5 separate regions of the Homo sapiens genome follow, and all the other regions are reported to be linked to region 4. The links are microRNA targets in miRTarBase. Many come from high-throughput screens and were not tested one by one. Region 4 holds a microRNA gene; each other region holds the end of a gene's coding sequence. Distances are from middle to middle.

What was found. Region 4 holds the annotated microRNA hsa-miR-330-5p (UCUCUGGGCCUGUGUCUUAGGC, at 2,133-2,154, shown strand). A microRNA usually pairs through its seed, bases 2 to 8, with sites in the 3' UTR of a target mRNA and lowers its output. Matches are read on the target gene's strand: a 7mer-m8 pairs with bases 2 to 8, a 7mer-A1 pairs with bases 2 to 7 and ends in A, and an 8mer does both.
Region 1: the mRNA of ANXA5 is a reported target of hsa-miR-330-5p. The part of its 3' UTR that is shown has no 7-base or 8-base seed match.
Region 2: miRTarBase lists ZNF462 as a target of hsa-miR-330-5p. The part of its 3' UTR that is shown has no 7-base or 8-base seed match.
Region 3: miRTarBase lists ZNF154 as a target of hsa-miR-330-5p. Seed matches in the 3' UTR shown: 7mer-m8 at 2,198-2,204.
Region 5: miRTarBase lists CASTOR2 as a target of hsa-miR-330-5p. Seed matches in the 3' UTR shown: 7mer-A1 at 2,371-2,377 and 7mer-m8 at 401-407.

Annotation. Positions count from the first base shown.
Region 1 is chr4:121,663,819-121,670,262 of GRCh38, reverse strand. ANXA5 (annexin A5) reads left to right here. Exons shown (of 13, transcript NM_001154.4): 11 at 251-309; 12 at 539-661; 13 at 1,736-2,317. The coding sequence ends at 1,795. Among named protein-coding and RNA genes, the nearest start is that of ANXA5, 30 kb to the left of the region's middle.
Region 2 is chr9:107,008,610-107,015,053 of GRCh38, forward strand. It overlaps ZNF462 (zinc finger protein 462), which reads left to right. Exons shown (of 13, transcript NM_021224.6): 12 at 936-1,059; 13 at 2,214-5,025. The coding sequence ends at 2,421. The region is part of intron 4 of LOC340512 (a long non-coding RNA gene); the gene reads right to left. Among named protein-coding and RNA genes, the nearest start is that of ZNF462, 150 kb to the left of the region's middle.
Region 3 is chr19:57,698,919-57,701,918 of GRCh38, forward strand. ZNF154 (zinc finger protein 154) reads right to left here. Exons shown (of 3, transcript NM_001085384.3): 3 at 1-3,000. The coding sequence ends at 2,717. Among named protein-coding and RNA genes, the nearest start is that of ZNF154, 8.8 kb to the right of the region's middle.
Region 4 is chr19:45,636,219-45,641,202 of GRCh38, reverse strand. MIR330 (microRNA 330) reads left to right here and starts at 2,116; the gene lies at 2,116-2,209. EML2 (EMAP like 2) reads left to right here and starts at 1,806. Exons shown (of 19, transcript NM_012155.4): 1 at 1,806-1,846; 2 at 2,330-2,358; 3 at 2,569-2,698. The coding sequence starts at 1,827. RefSeq lists silencers at 1,512-1,601, 1,622-1,901, 2,598-2,892 and enhancers at 1,277-2,128, 2,598-2,892, 2,129-2,980.
Region 5 is chr7:75,021,204-75,027,291 of GRCh38, reverse strand. It overlaps CASTOR2 (cytosolic arginine sensor for mTORC1 subunit 2), which reads right to left. Exons shown (of 9, transcript NM_001145064.3): 7 at 5,336-5,418; 8 at 2,758-2,852; 9 at 1-2,658. The coding sequence ends at 2,593. It also overlaps a transcript of RCC1L not described here. Among named protein-coding and RNA genes, the nearest start is that of RCC1L, 50 kb to the left of the region's middle.

The sequences.
Region 1 (6,444 bases), not on the chromosome of region 4:
GAAAAACCTGTGCCCTTATTCTCCATGCCTTTCTATGCAGACCTCAGAACTCCAAGGAAAACCTAAGCCAGTGTCTAAGAAAATACTTGGTGAGTGAGGAAATCAGATTAGCTTACAGCTCTTTAGCCTCTGGTACTTTTGTGTTTTTATAGAAGTAGAGCTATAAGCAGGAAGCAGCACTTGATTTTTAATTACTTAATCCTTTACATATCAAAATAGCATTTGACCATTGTATTGTTTATTTTCTTAGTGAAATCTATTCGAAGTATACCTGCCTACCTTGCAGAGACCCTCTATTATGCTATGAAGGTAAGTGGAGACCATGAACCTTCTATCTAATACATTTCTCTTTCTAATTATTATTCTTCACTTTTGTTTATGTTTTAGATGATAGACCTTGGGAATTTTTCCCTTATAACATTCAACCCAGTTCTACTAAATTGTTATACCTTATTGATTCACCCGCACCCGGGAGCATTTGATCCTATGTTTGAAGTTTTTAAGCATTTTGCTTCTCTCTTTTTTTTTTTTTTTAAAGGGAGCTGGGACAGATGATCATACCCTCATCAGAGTCATGGTTTCCAGGAGTGAGATTGATCTGTTTAACATCAGGAAGGAGTTTAGGAAGAATTTTGCCACCTCTCTTTATTCCATGATTAAGGTAGTAGAACCTTTCTTTAAATTACGTTTGGGAATCCAAAGCAGACTGGTATGTTGCATGAAAGACAAGGATAAGAGAACCTGATTCTTGTGTTAAGTTTAAAATTTTAGTGACACGATTAGAGCAATGAGTTAAAAAGCTTAGCATAATGTTTCCTGAAGTAGAGATGATGGCTCCCAAGTGAAAGCATGGGTATTGATGTGGCTGAGGCTCTTGGTGAACTCAGAAGCATTATTTAGTAGTGGTAACAGATGACTCAACAAACCAAACCCCTTGCCTATGATAATAATGTGTTCTTTCTGTCTTTTATCAATTCCAGCTGTCTTTATTAGTCCTTCTTTTATTTCATATCAGCTTTTCCTTTCTTTATCGTCTGTTATCACCTTATCTCTGATGCTGGTTTCTAATTCAGGAAAGAGCCAACCAGGTCATATTGGGAGTAAAGAGCCCCTAGGTATTAGTATCATTTTTGTTCTTTTTAAAACAAGGTGCTCTGTGGCCTATAATTACATTTAGCTTAAAGTCTTTTGACTTTTTTTTTTTTTTTCCAGTAAAGGTTAATGTGGACCATGTGCAAAGCAAGATTTCAATTGAGCAGAAGCTTTTAGTTTAGCATGTTTGTGGTTTGGCTGGCCCAAAGGACACTAGAGAGTTTACCCATGCACTTTTAGCTTGAAACATTAATTTATCATGCATGTCTGCATGTGAGACAAGCAGATGCAAAGCATGTTCTGCCCTTCTGTCTCGGAGGGAGAGCCATGACAGCCCTGCAGCCCCAGCACTGCCCGTGTTAGCTGATATATACCAAGTGATAGAAACTATTCTGTCTAGAAGGCTTGATTTGACTATAGTTGTTAAAGTTGCCTGATTCTTTGTGTTACCAGAGGGAATACTGAGTGTCTGAGGTTACATTGGTAGGAAACTCCCTGCATAACATTCCTGATGTGAAAGTCACAGAGATTACCCACTTGGGAGAAGAGTCTTATGAATAAAATTTGTTGCCAGTTATTTAGTTTTAAAATTTTCTATGGCTTCTGTGAGTCATGGAGGTTAATGGAATACATTTGGTTTCAGGGAGATACATCTGGGGACTATAAGAAAGCTCTTCTGCTGCTCTGTGGAGAAGATGACTAACGTGTCACGGGGAAGAGCTCCCTGCTGTGTGCCTGCACCACCCCACTGCCTTCCTTCAGCACCTTTAGCTGCATTTGTATGCCAGTGCTTAACACATTGCCTTATTCATACTAGCATGCTCATGACCAACACATACACGTCATAGAAGAAAATAGTGGTGCTTCTTTCTGATCTCTAGTGGAGATCTCTTTGACTGCTGTAGTACTAAAGTGTACTTAATGTTACTAAGTTTAATGCCTGGCCATTTTCCATTTATATATATTTTTTAAGAGGCTAGAGTGCTTTTAGCCTTTTTTAAAAACTCCATTTATATTACATTTGTAACCATGATACTTTAATCAGAAGCTTAGCCTTGAAATTGTGAACTCTTGGAAATGTTATTAGTGAAGTTCGCAACTAAACTAAACCTGTAAAATTATGATGATTGTATTCAAAAGATTAATGAAAAATAAACATTTCTGTCCCCCTGAATTATGTGTACATGTGTGTTTAGATTTATTATTAAATTTATTTAACAATGTTCTCTCTTTTTAAGCTAATAATTGACAGTGGTGTTAGTTGAGAACTGAATTTACAGTTGGTCTTTTGGGCAGTAAGAAATGCAAACCATAGACTGAATTTCCTTCATAGTACATGATTTTTCCTAAATATAGGAAAGATCGAAGGGGTCTCTGGTTTATTTGCACCATGTTTATTTAGGCATCTATTAAAGCAATGCTTGTGGTGCTACTTGCTTAGTAGAAAAGCTAATTATAAAACTTAATGCAAAAATTCAGAGTACTACCTTTCTCTTTCCTCTTTCCTATTGTGAACTTGCCTCCCATTTACTGTCTGTCACTTTCTTTGAGATAAATAAAAAAGACAATAATTTTTTCTAGAAAGAAGCAGTTTATCGATCTCTTCTAATATTTGCCTTTCAGTTTTCTGTTTTCAAACTGCCATTTCAGTTGGTGTCATTTTTCTTTTTGTACTTATGCCCTTCTGGTTGCATTTTTTTTTTTAAAGCCAAGTAATTGCCATTAATAAGCTTTTTTAAATAAAATGAACTAATCTTCCTTTGAAAACTTTAAAATAGTGATAATATTCTTTTCACCACCGTTGATGCTCATCAGAATAACCAGGGGAATCTTAAAAACTGTATGTGTACACATGATATTGGATTTTTGTTTTTTTGAGAGGCCTCATAGGCAATTTTAATGCAGAGGCAAGTTGAGAATCAGTTGGTTATACTTTTCACATAGAAGATGATATGTTTCAAAGAGCTCTGTTCTGTTATTGAAAATAGGCCACTGGCTTTAAATATAAGCCCTGGATTATTTATTAGTAACACTTTAAGAGAAATCCACCTGTGAGCTTTAACATTTGCTATATTTTCTGTAGGTCTGGATCTGAAAATTTATTAATAAAAGAATTAAAAAAATAAAAATCCACAAAAAACATTTGCTATATTTATTTACTTAGTGACCTTCTTCCCAGCTCTCTGTGAGTTTATTGGGAGACAAATTTTTGTGGAACTAGATAAGCTGATTGTAAACATCATGCAAAAAAGGAAGGATTGTTAGTAAAACTTGAGAGTAGTGAGGGAGCACTATTCTTCTATTCTTTACACAGATTAGACTACATATCCTGAATAGCTGAAACAGTATAATACTGTGGCATGAATAGACAGACAAAACAGCAAGTTCAGATATGGAAACAAATCATTTGGAAATTTAGTATATGTTAAAGGTAGGTCTTAATTTGCTGGGTAAAGATAGCATTTTTTTCTAACAAATGGTGTGAAGACAGTTGGGGAGCCATCTAGGAAAATATAAGGCTTTTTCTATACCTCATGTATCAGGTAACTCTCAAAATGAAACATTTAAACTTAAAAATAAAATCATAAACATATGAGAAAGAAGCATGGAGGGATTTCATCATACCTGCACCTTCTAGATTCTCTGGGAAGCAGATGCTGAGATGGAGTTAGGGATGCAACAGGTTTATTGAATGGAACAGGTAGAAGGCAGGATTGGGCAAGGGGTGTCATCAGATTGCACTGCAGACCTGACCAAATCTTTGCCAGTATCATGTGGAACTCTGAGGCAAAGAGTTCCTGCAAAGAGCCCTTTGTGAGACAGAAGTGCCTGGGCCCTGTGCCACCACCTTCCTTACTCAATTATTGGCTAAGTGTCTTCTGGAGAAGAGCTTGGCTTGGCTGGAAAGCTGAGGCAAAACCTGAAGGAGATTAAGAGTTGGAAGGCTGTCAGCAACCCACATTTTCACAGCTTGGAACTGAGTATTTTCTTGAAAGGGGATCTAAGTGGTGCAGTTCCATGTCTGCCATAATGATCTTGAAGTGTGAGGCCTTTCTATCACCCAAAATCCAGAAGCCATAGGAGAAAAGATGATTATTTTTGATTTCCTAAAAATCAAAAACTACATGGAAGGCAGGCCAGGCACAGTGGCTCATGCCTGTAATTCCAGCACTTTGGGAGGCCAAGGTGGGTGGATTGCTTGAGCACAGGAGTTTGAGACCAGCATGGACAACATGGCAAAACCCCATTTTTATTTTTTAAAAAACCAAACAAAAAATTAGCTGGATGTGGTGGCACACGTCTCTGGTCTCAGCTATTTGGGAGACTGAGGTGAGAGAATTGTTTGAGCACAGGAGCACAAGGCTGCAGAGAGCCTGAAGGAGGGAAGGAGGAAAGGAAGGAAGGAAGGGAGGGAGGGAGGAAGGGAGGAAGGGAAGACGGGAGGGAGGGAGGAAAGGAAGGAAGGGAGGGAGGAAGGGAGGAAGGGAAGACGGGAGGGAGGGAGGGAGGGAGGGAAAATCACCACCAAGACAATTTAAATGACAAACGGGAAAACATTTACAGTTCATACAACAAAGATCTAATCTCCTTTGTACATGCTGACACACCTTGTTTTATTGTACTTTGCAAACAATTAAAAAAAAATTTTTTTAAACAAATCATAAGTTTGTGGCAACCCTGCATTGAGTCAGTGTATCAGCACCATTTTTCCAATAGCATGTGCTCACTCTTTATCTGTTTGTCACATTTTGGTAATCCTTGCAATATTTTAAGTTTTCATTATTATGTATCTTATGGTGATCTGTGATCAGTGATCTTCAATGTTACTGTCATAATTAAGGTGCTATGAACCATGCCCATTTAAGACAGTGGGCTTAATTGATAAATATGTGAGTTCTGACTGCTCCACCGACTGGCTGTTCCCTCATCTCTCTCTCTCTTTCTCTCTCTCTCTCTGATCCTTTCTATTCCCTGAGACAAAACAATATTGAAATTAGGCCAATTAATAACCCTGCAATGGCCTCTGAGTGTTCAAATGAAAGGAAGAGACTCACACATCTCTTATTTTAAATGAAAAGTTCAAAGTGATTCAGCTTAGTGAGTAAGGCAGGTCAAAAGCCAAGGCAGGCTGAAAGCTAGGCTACTGGTGCCAAACAGCCAAATTGAGAATAAATGTAAATTTTAATTTTCTTTCTTGAAGAAAATTAAAAGTGCTACTCCATTGAACACATGAATGATTAAGACAGTGAAATAGCCGTATTGCTGATATAGAGAAAGTTTGAGTAGTCTGGTTAGAAGATCAAACCAGCCACAACATTCCCTTAAGTCAAAGCCCAATCCAGAGCAAGATCCTAATTTTCAATTCCATGAAGGCTGAGAGGTGAGGAAGCTGCAGAAGAAAAGTAAGTGAGCAGTTTTGGTTCATGCGGCTTAAGGAAAGAAGCCGTCTCTGTAATAGAAAAGTGCAAATTGAAACAGCAAGTGCTGATGCAGAAGTTGCAGCTAGTTCTCCAGATGACCTAGCTAAGATAATTGATAAAGGAGGCTACACTAAACCACAGATTTTTAGTGTAAACAAACAGCCTTCTATTAGAAGATGCAATTTATAGCTAGAGAGGATACATCAATGCCTGGCTAAAGCTTCAAAGAACAGGCTGACTCTTTAGGGGCCAATGCAGCTGGTGATGTTAAGCTGAAGCCAGTGCTCATTTACCATTCCCTGGATCCTAGGGCCCTTAAAAATCATGCTAAATCTACTCTGCCTGCATTCTATAAATGGTACAACAATGGATGATAGCACATCTGTTTATAGCATGGTTTGCTGTTATTTTAAGCCCACTTTTGAGACCTGCTCAGAAAAAAAATCCTTTTCAAAATATTACTGTACATTGACAATACACCTCATCACTTAAGAGCTCTGATGGAGATTTAGGAGGAGCTGAATGTTGTTTTCATGCCTGCTAACACAACATATATTCTGCACTCCATAGATCAAGGAGTAATTTCAACCTTTAAGTCTTATTAAAAAATGTACTTTATAAGGGCATAGCTGCCATAGATAGTGATTCTTTTGATGGATCTGGGCAAAGTAAATAGAAAACATTCTGGAAAAGATTCACCATTTTAGATGCCATTGATATGGTTTGGCTTTGTGTTCCCACCCAAATCTCATGTTGAATTATGATTCTGAGTGCTGAGTGGTGTGAAGTAACTGGATCACTGGGGTGGTTTCTAATGGTTTAGTATCATCCCCTAGTGTTGTCTCATAATAGAGTTCTCACAAGATCTGGTTGTTTGCAAGTGTGTAGCACCTCTCCCGTCACTCTCTCTTCCTCCTGCTCCACCATGGTA
Region 2 (6,444 bases), not on the chromosome of region 4:
TGTGGTATAATGAAACACATATGGGCTAGGAACTCGGGCTAACACAATGGCCATATAATCTCTTATCTTTGAGTTTGCCAGGAGACGTGGCCTGAAAACAGTTAAACAGCCAATCCACATTTATCAGACTTCTACCATGTGCCTAGTACCATGGAGGAAACAAAACAACTAAGTCAATATTTGATGTTTACAACAGACCGTCCAGAAATGTCTGCATATCCCCGTATTCATGAATACCACCAATTGAGGGGTAGGTGCCAGGCAGCTGGCCAGGATCTCTCAATAGCAGGGGACATGTGTTCACATACTGGTTCCCACTCATCCAGATAAATGTTCATGGTAGATTCTTCGCTTGCAGATCTCATTCAGTGCACATAACCGCCCTGTAAGGTATTGATTATAATGTCTATGATGGATGACCACAAGTCATGAGCCTTCAGCCTTACTTGGAACAAGTAGAAACCCTGAGGTCCACAACACATAACCTGGTCCAGGGCTTTCGGTAGCCTATGTTCTTTTCAGTGAACAAAGATAAACCTGTGTCAAAAAGGAAATGAATAGATGCTAGCCTGTGAGGCACTGATATAAATCATCACACAAGGGAGAGAATAAATCGGAAAAAATAATGCTCAGATTCCTTTGGAATCTCGGGCAAGCGGCTCTTCAGTCAAGAAAGACCCAGATTTTGTGATAGAAGCATTGGGGAGGTGAGGCGAAATGAGGTCTTGGGGCCCAAGAACCAGAAACAGTTCTCGAATGCTATTCAAGGAATGCCCTAAGGGGGAAACCTAAGAAAAAGTGAGGAATCTGGAAATTGCTTTCACCACATGGCTTTATCAGTGAAGGTAGGAGAGAGGGTATCCTAATGAATGCTGACTTACCTATTCTGCTGATTCCCACAGCACACAGGTAACACTTCTGCTTTCTCTTTGCAGAGCTGATGAGATTTTCTGACCACGGGGCTGCTCTTAACACTGAGAAGCGTTTTCCATGTGAATTTTGTGGACGGGCGTTTTCACAGGGCTCTGAGTGGGAAAGACATGTGCTGAGACACGGCATGTAAGTTGGGCCACTTCAAGGATGCCTTTGTCCAAAGCAAGAGGTAGGGAGGGAGGGAGGGGCTCTTGTTTTGGTTCCCCTGACAGTATGTACACCCCTCTGTGTCACATTTCTGGGCCGTGGGAGGAGAGGCAATGGTGAGGAACCAAGTTTCTCCTTTTCTGTTGTTTTTTAAAATGGTCACCCAGCCGCAAGTCAAATAGGGAAAAAAATCGTCTTTATGAATGATCAGTCCTGCTCAAGCCTGTGTGCAGAAGTATAGTGTTTTCTCCAGCCAATATCCCTTTAGTCTTCATTAGCGTGACATTCTATAATAGAACGTGAATCGAGGTCAAAAGATCTGGCTTCTGTTCCTGCCTCTCTGACTGATCATTCCCTGAGTGGCCCTGAACATTCCCATGTACTGCCTCGGGGACAGAGCCAGCTTCTGCCTGCCTCCCAGGTAGGTGAGAGCATACTTGTAAAATACTTATGAGATCCCTGAACATAAAATCAGCCCCTCAACAAGGCACGTTAGTCCACCAGATGCAGAGAGAACCTAGGATGTGGTCTTTTCAGGAGGAAACATGGCTTGTGTGGTGATAGGAAGCCTGAAGCTTGGTCCCTGAAGCCTCAAGGGTCTAGACCTCAGAGAATATAACCAAGCTTCCCGAGACATGGGTTCCATCTTCAGGTTTTTGTTTTTAGTTTGTTTTCGTGATTTGTTTCGGGACCTGACAAATAAATCTTTAGTACCTGAGTTACTCTTTTAGACTTCATAAATATAACCAATCTCCAAGCTTCTGGGTTCAGCCGATGACTCTGAGCATAAGACAATTCTTGCTGTTACCACTTATGACCCAGTAGAGAAAGTGACATAAAATGATTATGCTTATCTAGAAAGAAAACATGGGATAATCAATATATAGTATAATAATGGATACTTCTGTAAGTTCAAATCTTTAAGATACAGAAATATATGACTTAAGCAAAACATAGCAGGGATGCATCACTTGGTATTTTGTCATACACCCATGGCATTTGTTCAAAGGAAACCCCAAGGCTTTTTGAGGATCAGGAAAATAAAGACACTCGAGGGTTTTTATTATTTTTTTGTTTAAAAAGAGAAATATATATACTATACTCATCTGTCTCTTCGATAAATGTTTTTCCAGGGCATTGAATGACACCAAGCAGGTGAGCAGAGAAGAAATCCACCCAAAAGAGATCATGGAGAACAGTGTTAAAATGCCCTCCATAGAGGAAAAGGAAGATGACGAGGCCATTGGGATAGACTTTTCCCTAAAGAATGAAACAGTAGCCATCTGTGTAGTAACTGCCGACAAATCTCTCCTGGAGAATGCAGAGGCCAAAAAAGAATGAGCGTTTGGTGAAATTCTTAATCAAACCTTACTTGAACAGTGATGAAAAAGTGGGAGGGCTGGCTTGGGCTGAGAAGGGAGGGACAGAAAAGAGAAGACAGAACAAAGCTGCTTTTTAGGACTGAACAATCTATTTTCAAAGCACTGGTACCTGTGTGAGTGAGTATGTAAATTAAAGTTATTTAAATGGTTGGAATATGTGGCTCCTTTTCCATCACTACATCTTTTCTTCCGGATCTTCATCATGGAAGTTTCATTTGTTGCGGAATATGGAAGCACCTCCCAATGGTACGGTGCACCCTGTGGTGGTCTTGGACAGTATGTGGAAACAGAAGCTCCATGACGGTAGAAGACTTCTCATTGGGGAGCAACTTTTTGACGCACAACTTTTGGTGCGTTTTTCTAGTTTTAATACCTTAAGCTTTTTCAAGACCTAACTGCAGCCGCTTTGGGAAAAAAAAACAAAAAACAAAAAACAGAAAACAAAAAAAAAAAAACTGCTTTGCATAAAACAGTCACCTGTTTCCTAGTACCTCAAACTTAACCAAGGGAACTCTCTGCATTTGTCAGTACTACCTGTCGTCGTTGTGGTTAAATGTAGAGAGAACTGCTGGGCAAGATGGTGAATGGAGAAAAAAAAAGAGTTTTAAAGAAAGGAACACAAATTGTGCTTAAAATCCCCATGTGGGTTTTATTTCTTAAAATACTGTGATTTTTTTAATTATTTTAGTAAAAAACAAAACAAAAAAAAGAAACAGACTTTAATTATTAGATAACTGTTTGTGAATTGTCATCCTTTATTCCAGGTAAGCTGTTTATTAGTGTTCAACTATAATTTAGAATTTGGTAGATTCATGTGAGCTAATTTTAAGGTGATTGTGGAGTTTTGTTTGCCACATGTTTATTTTCTATCAATTTGAGTGTTACAAACACAGCACAATTCAGTTTTTCATATGAATTGTTTTTCGTGTGTGTGTTGTTATTGTTGTTTTAATTTCGGGGCAAGGGAGATTTAGTTTTTTGTGAATAGGAATGTTTTTATTTTAAACATGGAAATAACAAAGAAGTTAACTTTCTTTTTTTTTTTTTTTTTTTTTTTTAATTTAACTAAAGAACCAAACTTTCGGCACAGCTATGCAGCTTGTGGGCCAGACGAGGAGGTCCTCCTCACCCTTTTGTTGCCTGTCAAATTCACGCATTATCCGTCTCATAAATAATTTCTGTTAGGATTGGCTGGCTTTTGTGTGTGATTTTAAAATCTGTGTTTTGTTTCTGCTGGCATTGTGTTTTGTTGGGGGTTTTCATTTATTTAGGGGACGAGGGGATGTACTAGAATCCCATCCCTTTCGTGAGAGTGGACAAGAAATAACATATCCTACAAGGAGCCTGGAGAACTACTTTCTTTCTTTCTTTTTTTTTTTTTTTTTTTTTTTTTAAATCTAGCTGCCAGCTGCTCTGTCCCCCATATCAGCTTTTTCAGGAGGGAGCAGCTTAGACTAAATCTAAGCCTACATTTATAATATGTTCTGATTGTGAACAAAGGGTTTCGTTCCAAAAAATAGAAAAGAACTTTTCTTGAAGCCTAGGTTTTAGAAGCCCGTGTGTGTGTGTGCTTGGATGTGTGTGTGCGTGTATGAGTGTGTGTGTGCATGTGTGCACGTGTGAATCCTTTGGTTTTCATGTTTTTTTTTTTTTTTTTTTACTTGGAAGGGTTGTGGGAGGGTGGGAGGGAAGAAAGGGAAGGGGAATTGCTGAGATGACAGTGTCCCACACAGCTTCAAATAAAATCCATGGAAAGATGTTGCATTTGTGGAATAAGTGCTTACTTGAAAAGCATGTTCTTCTTTTATTTTCTTACTGTTAAGAATTTTTATTTGTAGGATGTTTGTTTTAATTTAATTTTTTTAAGGGATGGGGGCCATCATGTGGAAACCAGAAAATGGGGAAAGTGTGAACTATCCAGACAAAGATTCATTTTGTGTCTATATTTGTTTTTAATTGGCCTCATTTCAAATGTATTAAACAGTTCCATACCTGGATTGGGTGTTTGTAATGGTTACCAAAAAACAAACAAAAAAAGAAAGAAAAAGGAAAAAAAAAAAGAAAATAATTGTGACATGCTTTTATCACTACTTTATTTTTCAAATAACATGTAAATATTGTAATCCATTGGATTTTGTTTTGCTAACCTGTTAATAAAAATATGGGACCATTATCCTTTTAACAAGGCTAGAATGTCATTTTTTTCTTTTTCAAACATATACCTGATATTTTGTGGCCGCACATTTTGGATGCATTATTATAATTCTGTTGACTGTAATGACATAGAATTTACAACATTTTTTGTTGTTGTTTAATTTATACAGAGGACATTTTTTTCAGAGCTTGAGAGAAGAAAATAAATAGCAAAATGATAACCTATTGACTCCAGTAATCAGTGTTTCCCAATACTTCATAAGAGATAGGGAGACCCTGAGTCCTTGAAGCCAAGGGTTTAAAAACAAAACAAAAACAAAAAAAACCACAAGTAGGTTATTCAAGTTGTTTGCAACATACATTTTGTAATGAAATGTGAGAAATTAATAAAGAATTTTTTTCACATGTGTCTATGTGCATCTGTTGTAAATCATTTACAGATATGACTACAGATATGAAATCTAGAAATATTATAGCACTACCTTTCAATGCTTGTACACGAGATATTTTAAGTCATTGAATCTACACAGGTATGGAAAGCAAAGGTAAAGCTGAGGTGAGGTTGAGGTTGAGCTGGGATTTTCAAATGTTAATATTTCTGCATCAGGTATTCATCACCAACTGAGGGAGTTTTAGGGAAGGAATATTTTCCATCAAAAATGTGAATCAAAGTGATGTGTGAACTTCAGAAGGAGGAAGCACCCGTGATTAAACATCATCTGGGACCCTGAATCCACAAGCACAGTCATTTTAAGCTAACTGCCAAGTCACACCCACTGCACAGGATCTATTTCAATGTTGCCGTCCTTGCTTATGAAAGCCTGCGCCACAAACTATCTTACTGAACATCCTGCAGCCATAATTATCACCATTAACTTATTCTTTGAGCTACCCTGTTATAAATCAATGGAAAAATTAATAGTCCTGAAACCTAGAAGAAAAGTAAATTAAAACCAACAGCATTAATTATTAACTCAAAGCTGAGTTACACTATCTGCCTCTACCAGTGTTAGAAGTATGGTTCCTGAATCATTTGTTCAGTGTTCATTCTAAAAACTTGGTTCTAACCCTTCCTCCTCCCCATCCCTATCAATCAATAAGATCGCATTCTGAGTACATTTTATATTCGAATACTCAAGAGATACTCAACCTTTTCTAAGGACTGCAGGTTGAGAAGTTTATCCTGTATGTTTTCAGAAAGGAGAGAAAGTGACTTAATGGACTTCACTGCGATACAGCTGTTCTCTCATGGTCTCCATGAAATATTTTATGAACAGTGCTTTTACTGAGTTCATGTCTAATCCATATTCTCACTTTGTTTATGTAAAAGAAATGGAATTTATTGCTATATAAGTCATGGTAGGGGGTGCAACAAGGCAAATCCTGAAATCTCTGGCTTAACACCATAGAGATTTGATTCTTACACACATTCCCTGTGAATGTCTGTGAGGTGTCCTAGACCTGTTGACTCGGGAGTCTGGGTTGCTCCATCTGGTGATGCTGTCATCTCAACACATGAATCTCAAGGTCAACGCTGAGAGCTTGGAAGTGTTTCACCCACTCAAATGCCTGATCCAGGAAGTAGCACACATCACTTTCAGCCTCTTTTTATGGGCTGGATCTGGTCACATTGTTCCACCTGTCCACAAAGGGACTGGGAAGTGTGTGAGCTTCCAGTGTGCTTAGGAAGAGCACGTGACCAAGCAGCCTCCACCATAGTCAGGAACTGGTAGAGAAAGAAACTCTGTTCTTTAGAAGGTAAAGGATGCTGATCCCACCGCATTGCTCATGCACTTAACCAAGATTTCTGAGCAAATATTTGGTGCTA
Region 3 (3,000 bases), 12 Mb from region 4:
CCAGTAGCTGGGATTACAGGTGCATGCCACTATGCCCAGCTAATTTTTGTATTTTTAGTAGAGACGGGGTTTCACCATGTTGGCCAGGCTGGTCTCGAACTCGTGACCTGTGATCCACCCACCTCGGCCTCCCAAAGTGCTGGGATTACAGGTGTAAGCCACCGCATCTGGCCTCTTTTTTTTGAGACGGAGTCTTGTTTTGTCTGTCGTCCAGGCTGGAGTGCAGTGGCGTGATCTTGGCTCACTGTGACTTCTGCCTCCCGGGTTCAAGTGATTCTCCTGCCTCAGCCTCCCAAGTAGCTGGGACTACAGGCACATGCCACCACGCCCGGCTAATTTTTGTATTTTTAGTAGAGATGAGGTTTCAATATGTTGGTCAGGCTGGTCTCTAACTCCTGACCTTGTGATCCACCTACTTCAGCCTCCCAAAGTGCTGGGATTACAGGCGTGAGCCACCGCACCCGGCTGAGATTTTCTTACTTGAGTTCCCAATGGGTCGTAAAGCAGCAGAGACAACTCACGATATAAACACATTTGGCCCAGGAACTGCTAACGAATGTACAGTGCAGTGGTGGTTCAAGAAGTTTTGCAAAGGAGACAAGAGCCTTGAAGAGAAGTAGTGGCCAGCCACTGGAAGTTGACAATGACCAATTGAGAGCAATATTAGAAGCTGATCCTCTTACAACTACATGAGAAGTTGCCTAAGAACTCAATGTCAACCATTCCACGGCTGTTCAGCATTTGAAGGAAATTGGAATGGTGAAAAAGCTTGGCTGGGCGCAGTGGCTCATGCCTGTAAATCCCAGCACTTTGGGAGGCCAAGGTGGGTGGATCACATGAAGTCAGGAGTTCAAGACCAGCCTGGCCAACATGGTGAAACCCCATGTCTACTAAAAATGCAAAACTCAGATGGGCGTGGTGGCGGGTGCCTGTAATCCCAGCTACCTGGGAGGCTGAGGCAGAAGAATCGCTTGAACCTGGGAGGCGGAGGTTGCAATGAGCTGAGATAGTGCCATTGCCCTCCAGACTGGGCAACAGAGCAAGACTCTGACTCAAAAAAAAATAAAAATAAAAATAAATCATGGTTCAAAACCACAGTTACTTTTGCACCAACCTAACAAAATATGGTTCAAAATAAAAGTCTGAATTTCCTATTGTTTTTGGAAAATCAGGTTTGACAACCCTATGTTGATTCCACCATCTCTCTCCTCATGTCCTGGGAGAGGATTTTGCCTCAGTGATCACAAATACAAGTGAACAGTGAAGGCCATTTCCACCTGACTCAACAGAAATGTTGGCTGGATCACAAAGGCTGTATCAATGGCCTAGACCTCCCTTCTCTATCCTTGTTTTCCTGCCTGCATAGCAATGACCTTGAGGTGAAAATCCCAGAGGCTACAGGATTCCATAAAATTTCTGACAATGACCTCAGCTACACAAGATACACAATTCTGTAGGTCCTGAGGATTTCTGTACCTGCTCATCCTTAAGAGCCATAATAACGAACATCATGGAAACCTCTGTAAAAGGGGCACATTCTATTTATTGCAGTGTTATTGCAGTTTTCCACTCTCTATCAATCCAGTACTTCTATAACAATTATAATTCCTACTATAATCTTACCACCTGTGGTGCTACCCTGTGGAATTCAGGATATCAAGGCATACAGGACCTGGGGAACAGATTTCCCCCACTGGCACTGAACACGATGCAGTATTCCTTGTGAACAAGAGAACAATTTCATGTTGCTTTCAGAAACATCAAAGGATGTCAAGTAACTGCTGCCTCCTCAGGCTGACCTCTATGGCATCCAGGATATAAATTAGGACAATACCCTGTAGTTTTTTCTCAGAGGCCTTGAATAGCAATGAAAACTAGGCTCAAACTAGAGAGAGAGCTATATTCTGCCATCCTACTGTCCCTGTCCCTGTCCCTGTTGAGCTACACAATGTTTGGGATCTCCAAAAAAAGTTATTCACCCCTTCATGTTAGCAGAACCCAACTGTTTTCAAACCAACCCATACATATAGAACCCCCAAGATTAATAAGGCCTTTGTTATTGTACAAACCAAGGCAATAAGAGGCAGTTGGTTCCCACAGTTGGTGATTTGAAGGCTGGCAAACTCTATCAAGAGTCATGTGAGACCAACAATATCCTGAAATATGTAGTCCCTCTTTTCAGGTCACCAGCAGAGTCCTCTGGGCCAAACTGGGTCAGGTCCATGGCCTAACTCATCAGAAAGGAAAAAAAAAAAACGGAATAAATGCTTAGGCTATTTACAAATTCCTCCCATGAACAGAACACCAAGGTTCACTTACCTGAATACACTGGGATGGGTGAGTGGTGCACACTGGTGGTCACCTGCCAGGCAGTAGAGGTAAAATGGCTTCCACTATAGTATCAGCAGAGACATAAATCTGACATGGGCCCTGGGCAGGGCAAAAGGTGCAATGCAGTTCACACATACCTGGAATTTATGCAGATGTTCAGATATAGGATGTTCAATTCAGGCTGATGCCACCCTCATAAGGGATCTCCTTCAGAGCTGTTATATCAACTGGACATCCCTACATATCAAAAGTGTCTTTCCCTTGTGAACTGTGTGGCACTCAATGAGATATGGCCTTCAGCTGAAGCTTTCTGACATTCACTGTGTACTCAAGGACTTTCTCCAGGGTGCTAACAGATTTTCCACATTTGCCACTCATAAGGCTTTTATCGACTATGAATTCTCTGATGTTTAATAAGGCTGGAGTTATGGCTAAAGGATTTCCCACATTCCGTGCACTCATAAGGCTTCTCCCCAGTGTGAACCCTCCTGTGCTTAATGAGGCCGGAATTTTGAGTAAAGGATTTCCCACATTCACTGCACTCATAGGGTCTTGATCCAGTGTGAACTCTCTGGTGTTTTCGGAGACTGGAGCTGTAGGGAAAGAACTTCCCACATTCACTGCACTCATAAGGCCTCTCCCCAGTGTGAACTCCCCGATGTTGAAGGA
Region 4 (4,984 bases):
AACAGAGGCTGAGACCAGGTGGAGGCATTCCAGATTCCAGAAGCTTTGACATCAAAATCGGGGGGCACTGCCAGGTTGAAAAGGGCGTGGCTTAAAGGTTGGGCGGGGCCGTAGGGGCGTGGTCAAATGCCAAGAGGTGCAGCCAACTTGGAGGCCTCGAAGGTATTCACATAAGGAATACGTGAAAATGGACGTAATCAGAATGCCTGGCGGGCCGGAGAAGGAGCGTTGGCGGGAGGTAGCAGTCAATTCTCAAGCAACTGAGTCAACTCAGGGACAGGGTTAGAAGGGAGGCTCAGAATGACAGGCGTGGTCAACTCCAGAGGCGGGGCCATACTGAAGATCTGGACAGAGTCAAAAACTAAGGCTATATAATTCTAGCAGTTTGGGAGGCGGAGGCGGGAATCATCGCTTGAGCTCAGGAGTTCGAGACCAGGCTGGGCAAAATAGCGAGCCCTCGTCTTTACTAAAAATGAAAATAAATTAGGCCTGGCGCGGTGGCTCACGCCTGTAATCCCAGCACTTCGGGAGGCCTAGGCGGGTGGATCACAAGGTCAAGAGATCGAGACCATCCTGGCCAACATGGTGAAACCCCCTGTCTATTAATAATACAAAAATGGGCGTGGTGGCGCGTGCCTGTAGTCCCAGCTACTCGGGAGGCTGAGGCAGGAGAATCACTTCAACCCGGGAGGCGGAGGTTGCAGTGAGCTGAGATCGCGCCACTGCACTCCAGCCTGCTGACAGAGCAAGACTCCGTTAAACAAACAAACAAAAAACAAAAAACAAAAAACAAAAAAAAAAAGAGAGAGAAAGAAAATAGCCGGGCGTGCTGGCCTTCGCTTGTAGACCCAGCTACTTGGGAGGCTGCGGCAGGAGGCTCACTTAAGCCTAGGAAATTCGAGGTTTCAGTGAGCCATGATCACGCCATTGCACTCCAGTTTGGTCGACAGAGCCACACCCTGTATCAAAAACAAAACAAAACAAAAATCACCCTAAGGCTGGAGTTATGGTGCAGTGGGCGTGGTCAGCGCTAGGAGGCCACGCAAGGGCAAGACCAAGGTCAAAAGCTGCACATTTCAACTCTGCTCAAACATAGCAAACACAAATACAGCGTTGTGTATACTCCAGGCACTTCCCAATAATTAACCAATTTCACCCTCGCAACTACCCCCGGGAGGTGTGAGTACTCTTATTTATTTATTTATTTTGAGACGGAGTCTTGTTCTCGTTGCCCAGGCTGGAGTGCAATGACACAATCTCAGCTCACTGTAACCTCTGCCTCCCGAGTTCGAATGATTTTCCTGCCTCAGCCTCCCAAGTAGCTGGGATTACAGGCGCCAGCCACCACGCCAGGCTAAGTTTTGTATTTTTAGTAGAGACGGGGTTTCACCACGTTGGCCAGGCTGGTCTTGAACTCCTGACCTCAGGTGATCTGCCCGCCTCGGCCTCCCAAAGTGCTGGGATTACAGGCATGAGCCACCGCGCCCGGCCGGGTACTCTTATTATCCCCATTTTTTAAATGAGGAAACCGAGGCAGAGGTTGGACGACCTGTGTACACTGCTAGGAATTAGCAGAACTGGGGTTTTAACTCAAGCAGGCGCGCTCCCGAGTCCATGTTCTCAACCACTCTCCCCCACCCACCCCGAAAGAACCTGGGATCGGGAGTCCACAGCCCGGGATGTGTGACCCGGTGGGACCCTCCGGCTCCAGGGGTGGCTGTGGAGGGCGGGGCAGGGGCGCGGCGGCCCGGGCGCCTCCCAGGGCCGGAAGCGGCAGAGCCGGTCCCGGCTCCACCCCCGGCCCCGAAGCTCCGCCACCCGCCGCCATGAGTAGCTTTGGAGCTGGGTGAGACCCTTTCGCAGACCACCCCCCATCTCCTCTCCGCGCTCCCGGGGCTTAGATCTCAGGTTTCACCCAACCCCTGGGACCCAGACCGGCGTGGGGACACGCCCCTTCCCTTAAACTCTCCCCGTTTCTCCCTCTGCTTGACGTTTGGTGTGCTGGGGGAACTGCGGGTGGGGGGCGCTGGGGAGCACCTTGCTGATTAGGAGGGAAGGGTCCTTGGTGACTCCCTTCTTCCAGGATCGCGTCCCTGCCACTTCGTGCTGTGTGATCTTTGGCGATCACTGCCTCTCTGGGCCTGTGTCTTAGGCTCTGCAAGATCAACCGAGCAAAGCACACGGCCTGCAGAGAGGCAGCGCTCTGCCCCTTACTCGGCCCCGTTTTCATCGGAGACCTCCGGGGAGCGGTGGGGGTGGAGGAATGGTTTCTCCCCTTTTCTGAACTGAATACTAAGACCCTTTTTTTTTCTTTGTCCTTTCCTGACAGCAAAACCAAAGAAGTTATCTTCAGTGTGGGTGAGTGGGGAGATGGGGAAGGGCTCGGTGGAAGCTTGCTTGTTGGGGTGACAGGCTGGAGCCAGAGGTCAGGAGTCTTGGCTACTGGGTCTTTGCCTCTCTGGCCTCAGTTTCCCTGCCTTTAAAAAAATAAATAAATAAAGCTGGAAGAGGAGAGGGAATAGGGATGGGGCTGGTGTCAGTGCCTGACCTCTGGGGGTGTCCTGGCAGAGGATGGCTCCGTGAAAATGTTCCTGAGGGGCCGCCCTGTGCCCATGATGATCCCAGACGAGCTGGCACCCACCTACAGCCTGGACACACGCTCGGAGCTGCCTTCTTGCCGGCTCAAGCTGGAGTGGGTGTATCCTTTTGCTGGAATCTCCTTGGTGCTCCCATCCCCCCAGGAGGAAATAGAAAGGCGGTCAAGGCAGCTCAGGCCTGTAATCTCAGCACTTTGGGAGGATCGTTTGAGGCCAAGAGTTTGAGACCTGCCTGGGCAACACACAAAACAAGCACAGCACGTTCAAGGGCTATGTGGCCAGAGTGGGATTGGTGCATTTGAGCAAAAAGAGTTGGGAATGGCTGGAAGCCCGGGCTCTGGAGTCTGACAGAGATGGGTTCAAACCCCAGTCCAGCCCGTACCTGGCCGTGTGACCCTGGAAAAGTCGTCTTGACTCTGAAAAATGAATTTTATGATCTCAGGTCCATAGACCTGTGAAATAATGTGTAAAGGTACTGAGCTCATAGTATGTGCCCCATGCACAGGGACTGATAAAACACTAACTCAGCACATTGGGAGGCCGAGGTGGGTGGATCACTTGAACCCAGGAGTTTGAAACCAGCCTGAGCAACATAGCAAGACCTCGTCTTTACAGGAAATAAAATAGCAGGCCGGGCGCGGTGGCTCATGCCTGTAATCTGAGCACTTTGGGAGGCCGAGGTGGGCAGATCACCTGAGGTCAGGAGTTTGAGACCAGCCTGACCAATATGATGAAATCCTGTCTCTACTAAAAATACAAAAATTAGCCGAGTGTGGTGGCATGTGCCTGTAAACCTAGCTACTCGGGAGACTGAGACAGGAGAATCGCTTGAACCCAGGAGGCAGAGGCTGCAGTGAGCCGAGATTGCCCCACTGCTTTCCGGCCTGGGCCACAAGAGTGAAACTCCGTCTCAAAAAAAAAAAAAAAAAAAAAAAAAAGAAAAGAAAAAGAAAAAAAAAATAGCCAGCCATGGTGGCATGCTCCTGTGGTTCCCAGCTACTCTGGAGGCTGAGGTGGGAGCATCACTTGAGCCTGGGAGGTCGAGGTTGCAGTGAGCCATGATTGTGCTATTGCACTCCAGCCTGGGCGACAGAGCGAGACTCCTTTCTCAAAAAAAAAAAAAAAAAAAAAAAAATCCAAAATAATAACTCAAGCACTTACTATCTGACAGACACTGTTGTAAGTTATTCCAGGTATGAATTTATTTTTTTACAACTAGTGGCCTCCAAGAGCTCTGAGGCCTACAGTTTGGAAATTATTATACCTCCTTTCCAGATAAGGAAACTGAGGTTATAGGTAGGAGACAACAATCCTGATTCTGGGACCCAAACTTTTTCCTAAAATCCTATTGAGCTTGGAGTCCACACCCCAGGAACCCGGTCCTTGTCTGCTTCTCTCTGGGCCTTGGTTTCCTCTTTGGAGGAGCCAGGGTGGTTGGTGAAATGGCCTGGCCTTCTGGGTGCCCAGAGCCTTCTCGAGGCAGCTGGAAATATCCCCTGGAATCTGTCCCAAATGTCCTGCCAGTAGGGCTTGATAAGCATCTGATGAGAGGTGGCTGAGACTGCAAAAGTGAGGACCTCAGATTGCTCCCCTTTGCAGTGACTGCAGGTCAGAGCAGTTTCATGGGGTCAGGATATATGTATATTGACAATCATTCAGATATTTTCTTGTTTTTGAGACACCCAGGCTAGAGTGCAGTGGCACGATCTTGGCTCACTGCAACCTCCACCTCCTGGGTTCAAGCCATTCTTCTGCCTCGGCCACTACAGTAGCTGGGTGGCATGGGCCACCATGCCTGGCTAATTTTTTTGTGTGTTTTTTAGTAGAGACAGGGTTTCGCCATGTTGGCCAGGCTGGTCTTGGACTCCTGACCTCAAGTGATCCACCTGCCTCGGCCTCCCAAAGTGCTGAGATTACAGGCGTGAGCCACCGTGCTTGGCCCATTCAAGATATTTTCTGAACATCTGAGACATAGGGCTGGGGACCCAGTGCTGACCATGACAGCATCTGCCTGCCCTCCTGGGGCATACAGTCTAGCATGGGAACAGACTCATTGAGAGTGACAACCCAGAGTGTGCAAGACTGGGATGGGGAATCCACAGGGACAGGGCTGACCCAGCCTGGAGTCATGGAGGGCTTCCTGGAGGAGGAGATACAGAAATGAAAAAAACAAAACAAACAAACAAAAAAAACAGCCCAATCTCAGCCACCATGGAACTCACAGTCTTATTGGGGAATATGAGCAGTTAACAAATAAACCAGATAACTATCAGCTTGGGCAACAAAGCGAGATCCCATCTCTACAGAAAATTTCTTTTTAATTAGCCAGGCAGGCTGGGTGCATTGGCTCATGCCTGTAATCCCAGCACTTTAGGAGGCCAAGACAA
Region 5 (6,088 bases), not on the chromosome of region 4:
CAGAAGGCATGACCCACGCCACAGCGGGCTCTCAGCACCCTTCCCACGTCCCATGTCACAGGCTCTTTGAGCTGCTGGCTTTGTTCTCTCAAGTCAGGTCTGAGGGAACCCATCGGCTTCTGTAATAATCGTATTGCCTATATACTTGAATTAAAAATATATGGTGGCTCAAATGTGCCCGCGTGTATGGCAGACGGTGCGGGGTGGAGGCCATCACGCCCATACACGTGTGCACACACAGCGGGGGGCTGTGTCCACGGACTGCGCACACAGTATATATTAACATATATATTGCTCAAGTATATATGCTATTTACAGTATATATCTCTATCAACATAAAACACAGGTATTTATAGGTGTGTACAATAGATACGTCCTAGGAAGTCTAGGGGACACACGACTCTGGGGTCACGGGGCCGACACACTTGCACGGCGGGAAGGAAAGGCAGAGAAGTGACACCGTCAGGGGGAAATGACAGAAAGGAAAATCAAGGCCTTGCAAGGTCAGAAAGGGGACTCAGGGCTTCCACCACAGCCCTGCCCCACTTGGCCACCTCCCTTTTGGGACCAGCAATGTACGAGTTTTGTTCTGGAGTTTTGTGCAAAACAAATTAACTTAAAAAAAAAAAAGTTGGTTTCTAATTAATGTGGTGGGCCTTCAACACCCACAAGGATTTTAAAGAACAGCTTCTCCTTCTGGTGGGCTTCCAGGGCTCAGAGGGTCCCACTCAGAGAAGCAGGGAACACTTTGTCAGGACTAGAAAATATCCCTTCTCCTCTGACCACAGAAACAGCACAACTCGGCTGGGTGTGGTGGCTCACGCCTGTAATCCCGGCATTTTGGGAGGCCGAGGCAGGCGGATCACTTAACTCAGGAGTTCAAGACCAGCCTGAGCAATGTTACGAAATCCCGTCTCTATTAAAAAATACAATAACTAGCCAGACGTGGTGGTGCGTGCCTGTAATCCCAGCTACTTGGGAGGCCGAGGCAGGAGAATCACTTGAACCTGGGAGGAGGAGGGTGTAGTGAGCCAAGATCGTGCCACTGCATTCCAGCCTAGGCAACAGAGCCAGACTCCCATCTCAAAAAAAAAAAAAAAAACCCCCGCCAGAGCCAAAACCACAGGGGCCCTTGGTCCTGCTCATTCAGAAAACCACCCCACTGGAAGGGACACCACGGCTAACCCCATGCCTCCTGGACATGACCACTCAGCTGGCCTGCCACCTGGCTGTCCACCTCCCCATGGCCCTCGGGTTCCCTCACCCCCTCCGGTGCTCAGATAGAACTACAGCTGGTTGGTGGGAGTTCCCATGTGGGGTGCCAGCGGCTCCAGCGTCTTGTAACAGATCTCTGCTCCTAGCTTCCCTTCAGAAGAGAGGGCCCAGGCTCCTGTGACATCTCCCGATTCCCACTGCCTGTCCCTGGAGCCACAGAGCACCAGCTTAGTGACACAGAGCCTCCAGGCTCCCTTGACAGAACTCAAACAGGTCCTATCCCTGCCAAACAGAAACTACCGCCAAGAGCACCCTGGGTGCAAATACATTAAATAAAAAACTAAAACAAAGTATGGTTTTCTCTATTAAGGCTCAGTTAAGCTGCCTCCTGGGTCAAGTACTCATGAATGCCACAGCCCCCAGCCAAGGGGCGGGTGGGCAGGCAGGTGACTTGGGGGCAGAGGAGGGAGGAGGACGGCGGGGAGTCCTATGCTGGTCTAGTTGTCTGTTGGGGAGGTGGGACACCACCTAAGAAACCTCAGGCCTGGAAAGCCAGGGATGTCCCTACTGGGGGAAGCTGAGGCTCTACCTGCCCAAGTCGGGTCCAGGGAGAGCCGAGGGGACAGGAGCTGGTGCTCCAGGCTGGTGGGTCTCCTGGGACCCTCCCTCCTCCCCCAAGGACTGAGTGCTTGTGGGGGAGGGTCTGGACAGGGCCCTCTTGGCAGTCTTGCTGGGAGTCGGGCCCAGGCCCTGTGGTTGGCAGGCGAGGTACAGGGGGAGTCTGGGTCCTTCCCAGCTCGGGGATCCCACCTGGGTTCCTGTCTGAGCCTCACCAGCCCCGATGACCTGAGGGGGCCACGCTGGCCTCCACTCCGAGGGAACCAGCCCTGAGCTGATGGAAGCAGAGACCAGTGACCACAGTACTCACCCCCAAACCCTCCAGGGCACCCCAAACTCGGCCCCACCCCGCCAGCCCCAGCCCTGCAAGGTGACATGACAGCTGGCACACCGGTGTCTCGCAGGAGGGACCGGCTTCCCTCGGCATCTGCCCCTGGCCGTGGGTGAGGCCGGATGAGAAGGCGGATCAGCTCACAAGCTCCCTGGGCCTCCGAAAGCATTTTCCGGGGTGGGGGAGGTAGGGAAGAGAAAGGTCGTTCTCTGGAGGGTCGGGGGGCTCCGGGAAGGCAGGAGGGCATGGAGAGGCCTTGGCGTGGGCCCCTGCCCTGGAGGGATTGGCAATCGAGGGAGTCTCCCACAGAGGCCCCTTCCTCAGGGTCCCCAGGCTGATTTTCCAGTCTGTAGAGAAATACTGCAAGATCAATCTTCAGGGTTAGGGCTGGGCCCGGGCGGCGGCAGGGAGGAGCAGAAGAGACCCTTCTAGTGCTTCTCTGCTTGGCTGACCTTCAGGGCACTGATGACACCATTGATGTTCTCTTCGGGGACCTGTGCAGGGGTAGAGGAGGCAGATGCCTGCCCGTGAGCCCAGGAACCTGCTTCCCCACCCCGGCCCTGCCCTGGAGGGGTCTGGCGCTGGACACTCACAAGTGCATGATCAAACTTGAAAGTACTGATGTAGTAGGCTGGGATGTCTGCAGCAGCCAAGGGCTCTGAGATCTGGGCCACGATGCCACACTCATCTAGAACAGGAGAGACCGTCCTTAGCCTCTGTGTAACCTGGCTACCCTTGCCTGTGTGGCTCTTCAGCCTCTACCCTCTGTGGGCAATGCCTACCCTGCACCCACCATCCTCCTAGAGAATTCCCATCTGCTATCCCTTTTATTTTTTTTGAGATGGAGTCTCGCTCCATCGCCCAGGCTGGAGTGCACTGGCGTGAGCTCACTTCACTACAACCTCCACCTCCTGAGTTCAAGCAATCCTCGTGCCTCAGCCTCCCAAATAGCTGGGATTATAGGCGTGTACCACCATGCCCAGCTAATTTTTTTGTATTTTTAGTAGAGATGGGGTTTCACCATGTTGGCCAGGCTGGTATCGAACTGCTGTACTCAAATGATCCACCCACCTCCACATCCCAAAGTGCTGGAATTACAGGCGTGAGCCACCGTGCCTGGCCTCCCACTGGCCATCCCTCTTGAAGGCTTAACCCAGATGTCCCCCAACCAGGAGCCTTCTCTGGTCGCTGGCCAGTGAAATAGTTTGGCTTTGTGTTCCTGCCCAAATCCTCCAATTGTAATCTCAAGTATTGGAGGTGGGGCCTGGTGCAAGATGACTGGATTATGAGGGTGGATTCCTCATGAATGGTTTAGCCTCATCCTCTTGGTACTGTTCTCGTGACAGTAAGTCCTCACGAGATCTGGCTATTTAAAAGTGTGGCACCTTGGCTGGGAGTGGTGGCTCACGCCTGTAATCCCAGCACTTTGGGAGGCCGAGGCGGGTGGATCACTTGAGGTCAGGAGTTCGAGACCAGCCTGGCCAACATGGTGAAACCCCATCTCTACTAAAACTACAAGAATTAGCCGGGCGTGGTGGCACGTGCCTATAGTCCCAGCTACTTGGGAGGCTGAACCCAGGAGGCGAAGACTGCGCCATTGCACTTCAGCCTGGGCAACAGAGCAAGATCCGGTCTCAAAAAAAAAAAAAACAAAAAACAAAAAGAAAAAAAAAATGCTATCCACCAAAGACGTTGTCTGGACAACTGTGGAAACAGAGGAAAGACTAAGTCTTAGGGAATGACTGAAAATTTTCTCCTGTGGAATCCTGTCATTGTGGTTATATAGGAGAAAGTGTTTCTTCTTTTTTTTTTCTTTTTTTGAGGTGGACTCTCGCTCTGTCGCCCAGGCTGGAGTGCAGTGGCGCCATCTCGGCTTGCTGCAAGCTCCGCCTCCCAGGTTCATGCCATTCTCCTGCCTCAGCCTCCCAAGTAGCTGGGACTACAGGCGCCTGCCACCACGACCGGCTAATTTTTTGTATTTTTAGTAGAGACAGGGTTTTGCTGTGTTAGCCAGGATGATCTCGATCTCCTGACCTTGTGATCCTCCTGCCTCGGCCTCCCAAAGTGCTGGGATTACAGGCGTAAGCCACCTTGCCCGGTGCTTCTTCCCAGGATGGAAAAGGCGAGGCATTTAGGAGTAAAGTGTTGGGTGTCAGACTCTCTGGGAGATATGTGACAATTACATGTATTTACGTGAAGAAAACATGTTAAAAAATTGCCAGCAGTTATTATCTTTGAGCTGTGGAAATAAGGAGTGATTTTTTTTCTCTTTAATTTTTATCACAGCCCCAATTTATTCTTTTTTAAATTAAATTTATTATTATTTTTTGAGACAGAGTCTTGCTCTGTTGCCCAGGCAGGAGTGCAATGGAGCGATCTTGGCTCATCGCAACCTCTGCTTCCTGGGTTCAAGCGATTCTCCCATCTCAGCCTCCTGAGTAGCTGGGATTACAGGCGCACGCCACTGTGCCTGGCCAATTTTTTGTATTGTTAGTAGACATGGGGTTTCGTCATATTGGCCAGGCTGGTACTCCTGACCTCAGGTGATCCACCTGCATCGGCCTCCCAAAGACCTGGGATTACAGGCACGAGCTAACTCGCCCAGCCTCTTTTTTTATTTTTAGAGGCAAAGATTTGCTCTGTCACCCAGGTTGGAGTACAATGGCATGATCATGGCTCACTGTAGCCTTGAACTCTTAGGCTCAAGTAATCCTCCTGCCTCAGCCTCCTGAGTAGCTGGGATTACAGGCGCCAGCCACCATGCCCAGCTAATTTTAAAAATTTTGGTAGAGACAGGGCCTCGCTATGTTTCCCAGGCTGGTACAGAACTCCTGGGCTCAATGGATCTTTCCACCTCGGCCTCCCAAAGTGCTGGGATTACAAGCACGAGCCACCGCGCCCAGCTGCTTAATTTTCTAATAATAAGCAACATATTAAATTTCAAGAGGGGGCAAAATAAAAGCACTCCGATTGAAGCCTGCTCCGCACTTCCCCAAGAGGCCTGTGTACAGCTGCCACACACCAGTGAGCAACAGAAATTTCAGGCTCCCCAAGCCTCAGTCTCCCCATCTGTACCCCCCAGCAGGGGCCGAGTCACTGCGGACAACGTATGTGAATGGGCTCAGCAATGCCAGCTCCCTCAATTCCCCATGTAATCCCCCCAGGACTCACCAAACCCCAGGGGCTGTCCTCCAATCCGGACCATCTTCCAGAGCTCTCCGGATGCGCTTGTGAACAGCAAGTTACTAGGAAACCTTCAAAAGGAGCGAGAGAAGAATCCCCGAGGCTGATGTGAATTGCACTCCCTCCTTGGTGTGCTGGTGCACCAGCCAGAGCGAGGCATGGGGCTGGCCAGGCAGGGTTGGGCAGACCTCAGGGCCCCCCAAAAACAATCCCTTCCAGACACCCTGGACCCATTCGCCCGGCGGCCTCCTCGTCTTGAGGGGAGGCGGATGGGGAGGGTGATGTCAGGCTGGGCTTTGTAACAAGCCCCTCCCCAAACCCTTGCTAAGGCTGGTCTAGACACCTCTTCCCAGGTCCAGAGCACAAGCTGAGGGAGAAATAGCACCGGGGCTGCGGTTCAAATCCCCACTTTGCCACCACCCCACAGTGGACCTCGGACAACCCCTGCACCTCTCTGAGCTGGGGGACCAGCTTACTTATGATGAAGTGCTATGGTGAGGGTTTATTAGAGACAAAGTGGCAGGGCGTGGTGGCTCACACCCGTAATCCCAGCACTTTGGGAGGCCGAGACTGGCAGATCACATGCAGTCAGGAGTTGGAGACCAGCCTGGTCAGCATGGCGAAGCCCCATCTCTACGAAAAATACAAAAATTGGCCAGGTGCGGTGGCTCACGCCGGTAATCCCAGCACTTTGGGAGGCCAAAGTGGGTGAATCACTTGAGGTCAGGAGTTCACGAGCAG